Linked DNA regions of Homo sapiens: region 2 is linked to region 1. The links come from fine-mapping of genetic effects on gene expression. Tissue or cell type: whole blood. Region 1 holds a variant in brackets; the other region holds the start of a gene. All regions are shown on one strand. Distances are from middle to middle.

Region 1 (8,175 bases):
CCACCCCAACTCCTAGCCTTCTCCACTACAGCCCCCTGTTGACTTCTTCAGTGTATTTTGTTAAAATCATGGACTCGTTCATCTACTTTTCGTTGCCTGCGCTGCTGGGCCTGAGGCTGTTATGCCTTACGCTGTCCATCGGGCAGCTGGCACAAAGCTTCACACACAGTGGTTGTTCTTCCTGTAAGCATCGTCAGTAAATTTTCTATCACCACCATCAATGGGAAACCAGCAGCACTTCCTGCAGATAGAAGGCAACTGTGAAGTTAAACAGAATGAAACAAGATCCTGCTACCAAAGCCAGCTCGTTACAAGTGACTGCAGCATCTCTGAGCTCGAGGTCAGCTCTCTGCTGGTTAAAATGAGGGATTAGCAGGTGTCAAGGATGTGTTTGCATCACTGAAACTTGAATTTTTGAGGAACCAGAAAAGACTGGAGGAAAATGAGAAGGGCAACAGCTTTCCAACGTTGTGCCTCAGGCCGCATCACCTGGCATCCATGAGCGTCCCCCACACAGCCCACTCTTGGGGGGCCACTTCTGCAGACTATGGATATGCCTTCATTTGCCTGCAGAAATCCAAGGCTGAAGGCTGTATAACTGACCCCCTCTCACAACAACAGCCAGGGCAGTGATGTGGCTGAATTTACATTCATTCATCAAACACTGTTTGAACACATACTCAGCGGGGCCTTGTTCTAGGCACTTGAGATATGACAGGGAGCAACGCCAAGGTCCCTGACCTCACGGAGGGGACGTTCTGGCCCAGAGAGACAGACAGCAGACAATGAATAGAACAAAGCAGTTATATGGTTCCTTAGAAGGGGATGTCAAGAGCTACAGGTGCCAGGTGTGGTGGCTCATACCTGTAATCCTAGCACTTTGGAAGGCCAAGGTGGGAGAATTGTTTGAACCCAGGAGTTTGAGACCAGACTGGGCAACATAATGAGACCTTGTCCCTACAAAAAAAAAAAAAAAATTGTTTCAATTAACTAGGCATGGTAACACATGCCTGTAGTCCCAACTACTAGAGAGGCTGAGGTGGGAGGATCGCTTGAGCCCAGGAGGTCAAGGCTGCAGCGAGTCATGATTGCACTTCTGCACTCCAGTCTGGGTGACAGATGAGACCTTGTCCCAGAGGAAAAAAAAAAAAAAAAAAAGAGCTACAGGGAAAGACAGAGTAGAGCGGAATGGAGGGGCTCATAGGTGCCAGCGTGGTAGGGAAGGTGGATTAGGTTACATTCTTAAAGCCGAGTCTGGTGGCTCATTCCAGTAATCCCAGCACTTCGGGAGGCCAAGGCTGGTGGATTACTTGAGCCCAGGAGTTCGAGACCAGCCTAGGCACCATAGTCAAACCCTGTCTCTACAAAAAAAAAAAAAATTAAAAATAAAAATAAAAATAAGCCAGGCATGGTGGTGCATGCCTATAGTTCCAGCTACTTAGGAGGCTGAGGTGGCAGGACCCTTGAACCCTGAAGGGTGAGGCTGCAGTGAGCCATGATCACACCACTGCATTCTGGCATGGGCAATAGGAGTAAGACCTGGTCTCAAAAAAAAAAAAAAAAAAAAAAAGATTGCGTTCTTAAATAGGATGGTCAGGGTGGGCTTCACGGAGAAGCTGACCTTGCAGCAGATGCTTGAGGGAGGTGAGCGAGTTGGCCATGTGAGTGGGTGTCTGGGTGAAGAGTGTTGTAGGCAGTGAAACAGCCAGTGCAAAGGCCCTGGGGCAGGAGCATGCCTTGAGTGTTCCAGAACAGCAAGAGGGCCTGGAGGGGTAGAGCAGAGCAACCAGGAGGAGAGGCAGTCAGAGAGGAGATAGGAGGTGGTAGAAAAGGCAGTCAGGGAGCTGATGGGAGGCAGTAGGAGAGGCGGTCAGGGAGGTGATGGGAGGTGGGAGGAGAGGCGGCCAGGGAGGTGATGGGAGGAGAGGCAGTCAGGGAGGTGATGGGAGGAGAGGCGGCCAGGGAGGTGATGGGAGGAGAGGCAGTCAGGGAGGTGATGGGAGGTGGGAAGAGAGGCAGTCAGGGAGGTGATGGGAGGTGGTAGGAGAGACTGTGGTCAGAGAGGTGATGGGAGGCAGTAGGAGAGGCAATCAGGGAGGTGATGAGAGGTGGTAGGAGAGGCGGTCAGGGAGGAGATGGGAGGTGGTAAGAGGGGTGGTCAGGGAAGAGATGGGAGGTGGTAGCAGAGGTGGTCAAGGAGGTGATGGGAGGAGATGGGGGGCAGTAGAAGAGGCTGTGGTCAGAGGTGATGGGGAAGGGACGGGATGACCGGATGGGGTTGGGCTTGTTGGCTACTGTTAAGGCTGCTTGTTTAGAAACTGAGAATCATCACAGGGTCTTAAACAGAGGAGGATTATGATCTGGTTTGTTAGAAAAGGGAACAAGCCCTGCTATGTGTTGTTGAGTAAAGAGAACAGAGGCAAGGGGCAAGGGAGTGGGCAGGTGAGGGATGCTGGGAGTGCAGGCAGGGTGTGGCCAGAGGAGGTGAGAAGCCATGAGATTCCGGCTATGTCTGGAAGGCAGAGCCAGCAGGGCATTCTGACCCCCGCTATGAGAGAGGCAAGCCAAAGCTGACAGCAAGGCTGTGACCTCTGTGGGTGGCAGGCACCATCCCCTGGGAGGGGAGGACTGTGGGAGGAGGAACAGATTGATGGAGAATGAGGGGGTGGGAAGAGGGGACCCAAAGTTCTGTTTAGGGCAAGTGGGAGACAATTGGTCAACATCCAAATGGGAAGTCAAGTGAGCGTGGATACACATGTGATGTTTGGGAGGGAAGGGATGCCCAGAGATGCGAACATGAGGGTTGTCGGCTCGGGAACGGAATTCCATGAGACTTGGCAGGACGACTGAAGGGGCAAGTGAGGTTGGAGGTGAACCAGGATCCCCCGGTGTCCTGAAAGCCAAGTGCAGAAAGTGTGCGGAGAACACAGGTGTGACCGCCTGATTCAGGGGCTTCTGAGGGGAAGGCGAGGCCCGCGCATTGCACTTGGGATATGGCCATGTGTTCATGGAGACCTGGACAAGGAAAGCTTTGATGGGCGGGAGAAGCGGGTTGGTCTGGGTTTTAGAGAGAAGTGGAGAGAGGAACTGGAAGTGTGATTGTTAAATCTGTGGAATCAGGCCAGGCGCAGTAGCTCACACCTATAATCCCAACACTCTAGGAGCCGAGGCAGGAAGATTGAGCCCAGGAGTTTGAGACCAGCCTGGGCAACATAGTGAGACCCCATCTCTACAGGAAAGAACAACTTTAAAAATTAGCCAGGTTGTGATAGCATGCACCTGTGGTCCCAGCTACTCGGGCGGCTGAGACGGGACCGTGATCCTTTGAGCCCAGGAGGTCAAAACTGCAGTGAAGAAGTAAATTTGAAGATCACAGACCTCCTTAAGACCCACTCATCTTCCCAGAAACTCACACCTGGGCACATAATTTGGCGTCTACTCTCAGGGAGTTCATGGCCCCCATGAAGCCTCAGGGAATGGACCATCTATGTGTAGAAGGCTAGATGTACCCTCTCCTGGGAGGCAGGGGAGATGGGCGGTGGACTGAATAATGGCCCCTCTACATCCTAGTCCCCCCGAACCTGATGTTTCCTTATATGGTAAAAGGGACTTTGCTGAATGTAATTATATTAGGGATCTTGTGATGGGGTGATTATCCTGGTTTATCCTGGAATGCGGGAGGGCCTGTGATGATGGAAGCAGAGACTGGAGATCTTTGAAGGTGGAAGAAGGGGCTGCCAGCCAAGGCGGCTATTAGAAGCTGAAAAAGACACGGAAATATAATAGATTCTTTCCTCAGGGCCTCCAGGAGGAACCAGCTCTGCCATCCCTGGACTTAAGCCCAGTGGAACTGATTTCACACTTCTGGCCTCCAGAATTTTAAGAGAATAAATGTGGCTGGGCGTGGGGGCTCATGCCTGTAATCCCAGCACTTTGGGAGGTCGAGGCAGATGGATCACTTGAGGTCAGGAATCCGAGACTAGACTGGCCAACATGGTGAAACCCCATCTCTACTAAAAAAAAAAAAAAATACAAAAATTAGCTGGGCGTGGTGGGGCGTGCCTGTAGTCCCAGCTACTCAGGAGGCTGAGGAGTATTCCTTGAACCAGGGGCGGAGGTTGCAGTGGCTGAGATCATGCCACGGCCCTCCAACCTGGGCAACAGAGTGGGACTCTGTCTTAAGGGGAAAAAAAATGATGTTTTA[CAGATTTGTTTTATG/C]CCCAAGTTAAGGTTTACCAAGCAGCTGGCACGCTTTAGGGACCCAACAAATGCTAGTCCCTTTTCTTGTCCATTGAATGAACTCAACATTCCTTTAACCTTCCACATGTGATAACAGCACCTGCTATGTGCCAGCTGTAGACGGTACTGAGTTACTTCCTGTGCCCAAGTTCATCTCTAAACTTGGACCCCCCGACCCTTCACCAGGGACCTCATTCCTCTAACTCTTGGCACTCCCTTCTCCTATCTCAGGGTCCAGATTTTGGCTATGTAACTCGAGGGCCCCAAACAGGGGGTATCAGTGGACTGGACTCCTTTGGGAACCTGGAAGTGAGCCCCCCAGTCACAGTCAGGGGCAAGGAATACCCGCTGGGCAGGATTCTCTTCGGGGACAGCTGTTATCCCAGGTAAGGAGGGGAGTAACAGGAAGGGGTGGCCAGGACCCAGGTATGCCGTAGAAAAGCAGAGGCCAGAGTGGAAGCCTTGCCTTCCTGCTTCCGATTCTAGACAGCCCAACAGACTTGAGGGAGTGTGAGAGGAATCCAAGCGCAGGGTGAGGAATGCGGGCTTTGGAGCCCATAGACCCAAGTTCAATTCCAGCCCTGCCACTTACCCTCTTTCAGTCAGTGAATATTTACTGAGCATCCAAAATGTTCTGGGAGCTGGGAATGCAGCCGTGGACAAGAAAGACAAGTCCTTACCACTACTCTAGTAGGGAAACAGATGATAGAAAAGTAGACAAGATAACTTCAAATGACAAAAACAAAAGAGAGGGGCACGGGAGGAATAGGAACTGTTAGGGTGACCAGGGAGGTCCTCTCTGGGGAAGGGGCTTTTGAACTGAGGCCTAATGACAGAAGGGACAGGGCCACCTGGAGATCTGGGACAGAGAGTTCCTGGCAAATGAAAGTGCATGTGCAAAGGCCCTGAGGCAGGAATGAGCTCCTGCGTGCAAGGCCAGGATGGCTAGAACCTATTGAACAAGAAGAGGCTGGGCACAGTGGCTCACACCTGTAATCCCAGCACTTTGGGAGGCCAAGGCAGGTGGATTACCTGAGGTCAGGAGTTCGAGACCAGCCTGACTAACATGGCGAAACCCCGTCTCTACTAATGCAAAAATTAGCTGGGCCTGGTGATGCATGCCTGTAATCCCAGCTACTCGGGAGGCCGAGGCAAGAGAATCGCTTGATCCCGGGAGGCGGAGGTTGTAGTGAGCCGAGATTGTGCCAGCCTGGGCAACAGAGCAAGACTCTGTCTCAAAAAAAAAAAAAAAAGTGAGGAAGAACAAGGCACTGCAACACTAATTTTTTTTTTTAGGAGAAAACTGAGGCTCAAACAGGTGAAGGAATGTCCCCAAGGCCACATGGCTAACAAGAGATCACCGACTTAGGTCAGACTGGCTCTAAGCCCCATGTGTACCCAGAATACCAGCATCTCATCTAACTCAAGAGGCAGTGCTTTCTGAGGCTAAGCTCTGTTCTACTTACCTTAGTGACTCTGTGCCTCAGTTTCCCCCAATAAAACTAGAATGACAATTCCTTGATTTCTCAAATGTTAGGGGATAAAATAAAGGCATTCTAGACTCCTGCATCCCTTTCTCAGCTGAAGGAGAACCCTGACCTTTTTGCCAAGCCCCTTGTCCTTCAGGGACTTCCCTGTAGCCCTTGCTGCCGATAACACCCCTTTAACCCTGCCATGACAGCAATGACAGCCGGCAGATGCACCAGGCCCTGCAGGACTTCCTCAGTGCCCAGCAGGTGCAGGCCCCTGTGAAGCTCTATTCTGACTGGCTGTCCGTGGGCCACGTGGACGAGTTCCTGAGCTTTGTGCCAGCACCCGACAGGAAGGTACAGTCTTGGGGGCTGCCTCAGGAAGCCATGCCTCCTTCCTGGGTAGACCCTCTGCCTGGGGTGGGAGCAACTTTACTTGTCTATTTCTCCTTCACCCTTAGGATGGCAGTAGAGGAGGTGGCCAGCTTGGGTCCAAGTCCACACTACTCCCACCCTCAGCAGATCCACCCTCGTTGGGAGCTCCAGGGGCAAAGCTGACTTCTAACCCCAGTGTTTCTGCCTCCAGGGCTTCCGGCTGCTCCTGGCCAGCCCCAGGTCCTGCTACAAACTGTTCCAGGAGCAGCAGAATGAGGGCCACGGGGAGGCCCTGCTGTTCGAAGGGATCAAGAGTAAGTCGGCCCTGCCTTGTTCTCCTGTCTGTGCACCTTCCTGCTTCCCATAGTCCGCTGTTGCCTGGAGGGAATCATCCAGGCAATAGGGTAGCATCTGAGCACCTACTGTGCGCCAGGCACTGTGCCAAGTGCTAGGGAGACTGCATGAACAGGGCAGAACAGCTTGCTGCCCTGTGGGCTCACAGGCCAGGGGGAAGTGAGTCAAAAGAACAGCTCCAACACAGGGGCTTTGAGGGGTGTCTGAGTGGATGGAGCTCAGGGAAGGCTTCTTGGAGGAGGCAGAGGCCAAGCAGTAGCATGCAAGTAGGGGTTGGCTGGGCAAACGGGGCAGGGAAATGAGAGGAAGAGAGATACCACAGGCAGAGGGACGGGGGTGGGGCGGCTCAGAGGCAGGAGAAAGCACGATGTGTGTGAGGACCTCGGGGAGGTTCGGTATAGCTGGAGCACAGATGAAATATTACTCTCTCAGCAGAGCTCACAGACATGGGCCAGGCCCCGGGCTGAGATGCCTCTGTGGCTGAGAGCTCCACCTCAGATCTGAGTATGTTGTGTGGCATCAGGAGAGGGCTGACCTGTTTCTTCCTCTCTCGATGGGATCTCTTTGGAGATAAGATAATTTAGCGTTAATGCAAGGCAAAATGTTCCAGTGAACAAGTTTCATGGTTCAACTTTATAATAATTATAAGTAAACCTGTTAAATTTTTCTGGACATTCTTTTCTTTTGAAACGAAGTTTTCCTCTATTGCCCAGGCTGGAGTGCAATGGCGCGATCTCGACTCTCTGCAGCCTCTGCATCCCGGGTTCAAGTGATTCTCCTGCCCCAGCCTTCCGAGTAGCTGGGATTACAGGTGTGCACCACCACACCTGGCTAATGTTTTGTATTTTTAGTAGAGATGGGGTTTTGCCATGCTGGCCAGGCTGGTCTCGAACTCCTGACCTGGTGATCCACCCACCTCGGCCTCCCAAAGTGCTGGGGTTACAGGCATGAGCCACCACGCCTGGCTTAAAACAAGGACATTTCTTATTGACAGCAACTAAATGGTACTTGTAGCATTTTTATCACACAGTAGATTCCATCCATTCACTATACTTTTCTGAGCTGTCTGTCCTGCATGCAAGTAGATATTTTTAATGTTGTCTGTTTTCTGTGCTGTTCCTGTAAGTGTGCTATTAAAATACACTAAACTAGGCTGGGCGCGATGGTTCATGCCTGTAATCCTAGCACTTTGGGAGGACGAGGCGGGTGGATCACGAGTTCAGGAGTTCAAGGCCAGCTAGGCCAAGATGGTGAAACCCCGTCTCTACTAAAAATACAAAAATTAGCCGGGCGTGGTGGCGGGTGCCTGTAATCCCAGCTACTTGGGAGGCTGAGGCAGGAGAATCACTCGAACCCGGGAGGTGGAGGTTGCAGTGAGCCAAGAATGTGCCACTGCACTCTAGCCTGGGTGACAGAGCAAGACTCAGTCTCAAAAAAAAAAAAAAAAACAAGAAAATATTAAACTAGGCCAAGTGTGGTGGCTCACACCTGTAATCCTAGCACTTTGGGAGGCTGAGGCGGGTGGATCACCTGAGGTCAAGAGTTTGAGACCAGCCTGGCCAACGTGATGAAACCCCGACTTTACTAAAAGTACAAAAATTAGCTGGGCGCAGTGGTGCGCACCTGTAATCCCAGCTACTGGGGAGGCTGAGGCAGGAGAATCGCTTGAACTCGGGAGGTGGAGGTTGCAGTGAGTCAAGATCGCACTACTGCACTCCAGCCTGGGCGACAGAGCAAG
Region 2 (8,175 bases), 45 kb before region 1:
TCTGAAAGGGTTAATGCCATCAGCAAAAGAAACAGCCAGGCCGGGTTCTCAGGGATCTTCACAGGATCCTGTCTGGGTCAAGTACTGGGCTGGGTGCTGGGAACACAAACAGCCACGGCGTTAAGCCACCAGTGTTGAGTGACAAGTCTAGGCACTGGCCTTGCTCTCAGGCTAGCTGGGGGATGGGCATTTAAACACAAGGTGTGGCAAATCTCAGGAAAAGAATGAAGCGCTCTGCCAAAAAACTAAAGAGGGGCAAAGATGAATCTACAACATACCTGCAAATAACCACAGACACGGGCACAAGTGATGCATCGCTGCATGGTTTATGACACTGAAAACTTGCAGACAGCCCCCATGTCCAACAGTAGGGGAGCAGCCATGTCAGGATGCAGCTGGAGCTGCAGGCACAGGTGGGGCACGCGCCAGCCCCAAGTCTGTTGGCCTCTCATTCCACTGCCCTTGGCTCCTGCCCTCAGCCCTGCCCATCACAGAGCCCGTGGCCCTTGTTCCACTGTGAGTGACCAAGTGTGTTTCTACAAAGAGGCTTTGCTTCCAAAGTGCAGCCGTTTTCCCTCAGTGTGAGTGAGTGTGTGTGTGTGTGTGTGTGTGTTACAAACCTAGTTTTGCATTGCTCCCTGTGTAATTGCAAATAGCATGCATTCTCTTTTGCATCTCCTCTCCCTCATCACTCCCCTGGGTCTCTGGTGGAGGACCCCAGGGCTCATCCCTCGGCCTTCTCTCTTCCCTATCCTCACTCATTCCCTAGGGGAGCTGGAGATGTTGACATCTCACTGTTTTATCCTTTTCAGCCTGGTCCTGTCTCTTAAGCTCCGGAATCATGTGTTCAAACGTCCTACAGGGCATCATCACACCAAATGACACTTGGCAAAGCCAGGACCAAACTCCTGATCTCCACCATGCCCACCCCCCGCCCTTCCCTCAGCCTTCCCTGCCCAGCTGCGGGCAGCCCCATCCCTCCAGGGCCTCAGGCTCCAAACTGCGGTGTCCTCCTCCATCCCTCTGTCTTTCTTAACACCCCTCATCCAGTCCCTCTGCAACTCCTATTGGCTGTATTGCATCACAAAATGTCCAGAACCTGACCCATCCTCCCCTCCTCCACTGCCACCACGCTAGCCTGAGCCCCACCGTCTGTCACCAGCCTGTGTGCAGCGGCCACCTCACAGGTCTTCTGGCCTCCTCCCGGGTCCCCTACAGTCTGTTCTCACATCACAGCCAGAGTGATCACGTTCAAGCAAGTTGGTTCGCGGTCCTTCTCTGCTCAAAATGACTCCAGGCTCCCCACGTTACTTGGAGCAGAGGCCAAAGCTCTTAGGATGCCCGAAAGGCCCTATATGATCGCACCCCGCCCTGGGCTGCTCTCCCCCTCCCTCACTGCATTTCAGCCACACTGGCCTCTTTGCTCTTTCTTGAACCCGCCAGGCATGTCCCTGCCTCAGGGCCTTTGTACCGATTGCACTGGCTGTTCTCTTGACTTGGAACCTTCTCCCTGTGTTCCTGGTAGCCTTTACCCTGTCCTTTTTCCTTTTTCTACCCCACTAACATACGATAGAATCCACTTACTGCATTTATTGCTTACTGGCTGTCTCTCTCCCAACAAAAACAAACAAACAAAAAGGCTCTATGAAGGCAGGATTTTTGTCCACTTTGTTCACAGCGTATCCACGGTGCCTGGAACAGTGCCTGGCCATCAATAGGCACTCAGTCAGTATTTGTTGAATTAACAAAACTGCTTTGGGGCTCGTCCTCTTTGTGGCTCGTTCACAGCAAATTTAAACCCCAAACTGCTGAAGAAAATAAGAAAGAAAAGAAGGAACAGAAGAAAACAACCTCAAGAGACCTAAGACTTGGGGTAGAGGCCAGCCCTCCCTCTGATTTGCTGTGTGACCGTGGGCAGGTCCCACTCCCTTTCTGTGCTTCAGTCTCCCCTTCTGCAAAACGAGGACTGGATTGGGTGTTCTCTAAGGGCCCTCCCAACTCTAACAATGGACAGCTCCCTCCTGCCACTTCCCAGTAGAAGCTCAAACTAGTTCTAATCATGCGGTCAGCCAGAGAAATTGGGTTTATTAACACTGTGTGCAGGCAGTCATGTAGATGCGTCAGAACGTCGGACCTGGCCACATCATCATCTGCTGGTACAGAAGATAAATTTTGAGCCCAGAGAAGGTGGTCTGAATCCAGATCCCCACTGTAGGGCTTATGAGACCTTGGGGGTCTCACTCAATCTCTCTAAGTCTTTGTGGTCTCATCTACACATGGGCATCCTGATAGGACGCACTCCATAGGGATGTTGAGATGAGGCAGGATTTGAACTAAAGCCTGTTTGATCCCACAGCCTGACTCTGAATTAATGAGGCAAATTCTTTGCTTCAAAGCCAAAGCAAGCAAACAAAAAACAAACGCAAGATATCCAACCCACGAAACGCTCTATGTTCACGCCAGACTCCCATGCATGCACCCTTTGAGTGCTCCTTGTTGGGACCCATCCACCACCCCCCAGTTGCCTCATTAAAGGCAGAGCCTGGCACCAATGGCCCAGGTGCAACCACAGCTCTGAGGCCACATGGGCATCCCCCTGGCAGGCGTGGCCCACACCTGCACTGTCTGGTCTGACACCCAGAGGCCCTGGCAAGAGGCAGGTATCCTGGAGCATGCAGAGAACATCAACTTCCATGCCAGGAAGCTCATCTTCTCTTCCCAGCTCTGCCGCATTCTAGCTCTGGCACCTTGGGCAAGAGCTAGTCACTTTTACTCTCTGAGCCTCAATTTTCCTTCTGTAAAATGGGTTGTAATAATAAGCCCATATACACCTTGTATTGTAGCGAGATGTAGCTGTGATACAGTCTGGAAAGCACGTGTCATATAGACAGGCAGCTAATGAATCTCACACTCTGGAACTGGACACCTTTGGTTCCAATTCTGGCCCTACCACTCTCGAGCTGTGGAAGAACTGCACCTCTGTTTTCTCCTCTGTAAAATGGGTATAATAATGGCACCAACCTCAGAGGGCTGCTGTGAGGGTGAAATAAGGGGATAATGGTATGATCTAGTTCACGGGTTTGTCGTAATGAGCTATTCTATGTGAAGTGCAGGAAAACGTGCCTGGCATAGAGAATGTGAGCTGTCATGTGGGTGGCCCAGGTGGAGAGACTTGTCCCAAGCCTGGTTGGTCTTTGAACGTGTAGCCTGGCCTGTGACTGCTTACCTAAAATCTCCCCGCTTTTCCCACCTTCTCCTCTCTGATATGCCTGTTTGACATAGGTGAGATTGGATAGATCAAGGTGTTCAGGGCCTCTAGGCAGGGATGGGACTGTGGGCATGAGGACCAGGACCCAACCCCTCAGCCCCACTCTCCACCCCAGGCTTTCTGAGCCATCCATCCTTCCCAAGAAACTGACAGAGCCACCCTGCCACTGGTACCAGCATTGACACCCATCTAGAGGTCCGAGGGGCAGCCCCAGGGCAGAGGAGATTTTGAGAGCCCACACCCCTGACCTGAGTGGGGAGGGGTTGAGCCTCTGGGCCACAGACCGCAGGTGCTGACTCATGGCCTCTGCTGGGCGATATAAAGGAACCAGCCCAGGGGCTTCCTACAGCCAGAGGGACGAGCTAGCCCGACGATGGCCCAGGGGACATTGATCCGTGTGACCCCAGAGCAGCCCACCCATGCCGTGTGTGTGCTGGGCACCTTGACTCAGCTTGACATCTGCAGGTAAGAGGGGGGCCTTCTGGGGTTTTGGAGGCAGGTCAGGAGATGCTGGATGACCCAGTTCTACTGACACAGGAGCATGTGTTTGGCCCAGGCTCTAGGCTCCAGCCTCTGCAGCCACTGCCAGGGGAGTAGCTGGAGAGAGAAGACCCCAGCAGCCCTGGGAAGTGCCAGTCTCATGGCTGTGGGTTCTTTGCCATGTACAAGTGCAAATTCCCCAGGAACACACGACAGATAAATTATTATGGGGCAAACCAGGCCATCCATCTCCCTGTCTTCATCGAGGCAACAGAAGCTTACAGAGAGTCTGTGACTTGCTCAAGGTCACACAGCACGTGTGCCCTGGAAGTAAGGTTAGCCCCTGGGCCTCCTGGTTCACAGCACAGTTTGTTACCCCACATCTCTTAGCTAAGCCTCCCTCAGTGGGTGCATAATAGCGTGGGTGGGGATGGCGAAACGGGGCTCTGTGGCGGCAGAGACTGAGGTAGGAAGCCTGGACCTGCTGCTGGCTAGCAAGGAGGCCTTGGGCAACTGAGCCTCAGTTGCCTCATCTGTGAAATGGGGATAATACTCACATCATGGGCTGGTTATAGGAATTCAATGTGAAAAAATGTGCAGATGTTGGCTGAGTACTTAGCACAGTGGTGGGCCCATCCTTGGTAGTTTTTATTTACTCATTTAACAAATGCTGAGTGCCATGCTCTGTGGCAGGGTCTGGGTTAAACAAGAGAGTTGAGGAATGCTCTCGGGGAGTGTGCAGGGTCATTGTTGTTATTGTAGAACAGGAATTAAAAGAAATTTTAAAACGTGTAAGCAAAAACTCAGTTCTATGTTAAAAAAAAAAAAAACAATTTTCCCTGGAAAAAAAAAAAAAAAAGAGCTGGAGTCCCTTAAAAATTAACTGCCTGTTTTTTTGTGGCTAGTGAGCCTTATTGCTCCTCTTTTTCCAGGCATTGTAAAGACCCTGTTTCTCCAGCTGTGCAGCTGCAAGGTCACTAGACAGATAAACTCAAGCTGTAAAAATTTTTTTCCTTAAAAAGTAAAAAATAATATAATGCATGTCTCAATTAAATAACTGTCTTTGTTTCTTGCCTCTATAATATGCTTCCCCCTGCACAGATCTACCCCCGCCCCATGAAATGCTTAAAAGATAACTTAACTCTTTGTTCAGGGCTCAGTCTTTTGAAATGTTAGCCTGACTGAGCCAGTGAATCTAAATAATAAATCCTCCTCAACCCCTCGGTCTCTCTGATTCCTAAATTATCCTGCAACAATTGCTGTTGTCAGGAATAGGAGTGGTTGCCCCTGGCTTCCCCATCCCAGTCTGGGCATCGGTGGCCCTAGAATGGTGCCCACAGGAGTGCCGGGGACATTTCTTTGCTACTGCCTGAGCCCCAGCAGCCAGAGAACAGCAGGAAATGTCGGGATGGTCTCCCAGGGCCACATGGTGGAGGCAGGAGACCAAGAAGTTGGGGAGAAAAGGAAAAAGAAAATCACCTGACATCATCTGAGGCGCCCCCAACTCCTCTGAGAATGGGTGTGAAGGAAATGACAGGAGCTGAAGCTAGCCCAGGGCCTCTCCCAGCATGCCCAGGCTAGCCCTCTACCCAGCGTCCATGAGTAGTAATCAAGATCACAAGTGCTTCCTCTGGCCCTAGAGAGGTGGGTGGACAGCTGGTCAGTGTTGGGCAGAGAGGAAGGCACTGCCCATTTCTCCCAGAAAGGATGGGGACTCCGGAGTTCACAGGGGCCTCTAAATCCTTCTTTTCTCCTCCTTCAGCCACACGTTGAGCCTGTCACTCTATCCCCTGAACATCTCACGTAACAATGGCTAATATTTACATCACACTTCCTACATTCAACTCATTCAATGGCCTTGGGAGGCAGGTAATGTTGTTATTCCCATTTTACAAAAGAGGAAACAGAGGCTCCAAGAAGTTAAGTAACCCACCTCAAGCCACACAGCTAATAAGTAGGGGAGCCAGGACTCAACCCAGGCAGCCTGACTCTAGGACCCTCCATTCTCCCCATGGGTCTCCGTTCCAGACCTTCCTGTCACTTCTTATCTGTTCTTAACATAGCCCCAGACAGCGCCTCCCTCCCATCTCCTGAGCAGCCATCGGCCTCTTCCTGAACCACACAGGTGGGAGGGCCACTCCCTCCTCACCTCCGCCCCTCATATTCATGCCTCCATAACTTTGCTCAAGCCATTCTCTCTGTCCCCAAAGTCAGGAACCCGGGAGGCAGAGGTTGCAGTGAGCCAAGATTGGGCTAGTGCACTCCAGCCTGGGTGACAGAGTAAGACTCTGTCTCAAAAAAAAAGAGGCAAAAACACCTAACCGAGGGTCACATAAATTAAAGGTGGCAAGCTGGGCACGGTGGCTTATGCCTGTAATCCCAGCACTTTGAGAGGCCAAGATGGGCAAATCACTTGTGGTCAGAATTTCGAGACCAGCCTGGCCAACATGGGGAAACCCCGTCTCTACTAAAAATACAAAAAAATTAGACGGGGCGCAATGGCTCACATCTGTAATCCCAGCACTTTGGGAGGCCGAGGCAGGCGGATCACAAGGTCAGGAGATCGAGACCATCCTGGCTAACATGGTGAAACGCCGTCTCTACTAAAAATACAAAAATTAGCCGGGCGTGGTAGCACGCAGCTATAGTCCCAGCTACTTGGGAGGCTGAGGCAGGAGAATCGCTTGAACCCAGGAGGCGGACGCTGCAGTGAACCGAGATTGTGCCACTGAACTCCAGCCTGGGCAACACAGTGAGTCTCCGTCTCAAAAAAAAAAAAAAAAATTAGATGGGAGTAGTGGCACATGCCTGTAATCTCAACTACTCAGGAGGCTGAGGCACAAGAGTTGCTTGAACCTGGGAGGTGGAGGTTGCAGTGAGGCAAGATTGCACCACTGCACTCCAGCAAGGGCAACAGAGTGAGACTCTGTCTCAAAAAAAAAAAAGTTAAAGGTGGCAAAGCCAGGACTGTCTGACCCTAAACCCACCCTGCTTCGCAGCCCACCCTGCCTCCAAATGCTGGGGAGTGGACTCCCCTGGGCACTGCTCCCTGTGGGCAGAGCTCATTCAACTTCCAAAGGATTTGGTAAAGGCCTAGAAGGGGTGGGGGTCCAGGAGGTGCCAACTGCAAAGGGCAGTGTGCATTCAGAAGCTGCCATCTATGGTCTCTCTTCTTCCTCCCAAAGTCTCCTTCTTCTTTTTTTTTTTTTTAAAAACGGAGTCTCGCTCTGTCCAGCCCAGGCTGGAGTGCAGTGGCAAGATCTTGGCTCACCGCAAGCTCCACCTCCCGGGTTCACGCAATTCTCCTGCCTCAGCCTCCCCAGTAGCTGGGACTACAGGCGCCTGCCACCATGCCTGGCTAATTTTTTTGTATTTTCAGTAGAGACGGTGTTTCACCGTGTTAGCCAGGATGGTCTCGATCTCCTGACCTCGTGATCCACCCGCCTCGGCCTCCCAAAGTGCTGGGATTACAGGCTTGAGCCACCGCGCCCAGCCGGGTTTCCTTCTGAATAGACCAGTTGGCATGACAGTGGGGAGCCTGGACAAGTCTGTTTGTCTCTCTGAGCCTCGGTTTACCCATCTGTAAAATGGGAAAATTAACACCCCTTCCTGGGTTACGGCGAAGATTGAATTATATAATGCACACAAAGTGTCTGGCAGAGGGGTCCCCTTTCCAATGCAAATCAAAGAAAATGACTAAAGTGAGTGTCAATCATTTTCAGAGGTTTATTTCCAAGGTTAAGGACGTGCCCAGGAAAAGAATACAGAAACAGGAAAAATCTGTAGTCCGTGCTTTTTCCTAAATGGGTCTGGGACTTCAATATTTAAAGGGAAAAGAGTGGGAATTGGGCCGGATGTGGTGGCTCACGCCTGTAATCCCAGCACTTTAGGAGACCAAGGAGGGTGGATCACCTGAGGTCAGGAGTTCGAAACCAGCCTGGACAACATGGTGAAACCCCATCTCTACTAAAAATACAAAAATTAGCCGGGCGTGGTGGCAGACGCTTGTAATCCCAGCTACTCAGGAAGCTGAGGCAAGAGAATCACTTGAACCCAGGAGGCGGAGGTTGCAGTGAGCTGAGATTGCACCATTGCACTCCAACCTGGGCAATAAGAGTGAAACTCCGCCTCAAAAAAAAAAAAAAAAAAGTGGGTATTGGGGCAAAGAGGAAGAAAGAAAAAAAAGATGGGTAGATAAGAGGTAAGTGGTTGCATTGAGTCTTTGATCAGCTTTCACTGAATACATTTTCCGTGTGAGGTGGGGAGAGGAATAGTCACTTATGCCTTGAGCTCAGGGAATCTATATTGTCACAAATGATAAACATAGAGCAAGGGAAGAAATCAGATATGCATTTGTTGCAGGTAAGCAGAGGGATAACTTTGATTTCTGTCCTTTGTTCCATGCCTGTGAAGATAAGCTATTAACT

Evidence for each region. PIP is the estimated chance that this variant, and not a neighbour inherited with it, causes the effect.
Region 2: it holds the start of PADI4, and the variant in region 1 is fine-mapped to the expression of PADI4 in whole blood (INTERVAL, PIP 0.96).

What each region holds. Positions count from the first base shown.
Region 1 is chr1:17,350,063-17,358,237 of GRCh38, forward strand. PADI4 (peptidyl arginine deiminase 4) reads left to right here. Exons shown (of 16, transcript NM_012387.3): 11 at 4,471-4,625; 12 at 5,921-6,065; 13 at 6,295-6,397. Among named protein-coding and RNA genes, the nearest start is that of PADI6, 18 kb to the right of the region's middle. The variant CAGATTTGTTTTATG/C (reference allele first, on the strand shown) is at 4,205.
Region 2 is chr1:17,304,582-17,312,756 of GRCh38, forward strand. PADI4 (peptidyl arginine deiminase 4) reads left to right here and starts at 3,616. Exons shown (of 16, transcript NM_012387.3): 1 at 3,616-3,733. The coding sequence starts at 3,642. RefSeq lists an enhancer at 1-798.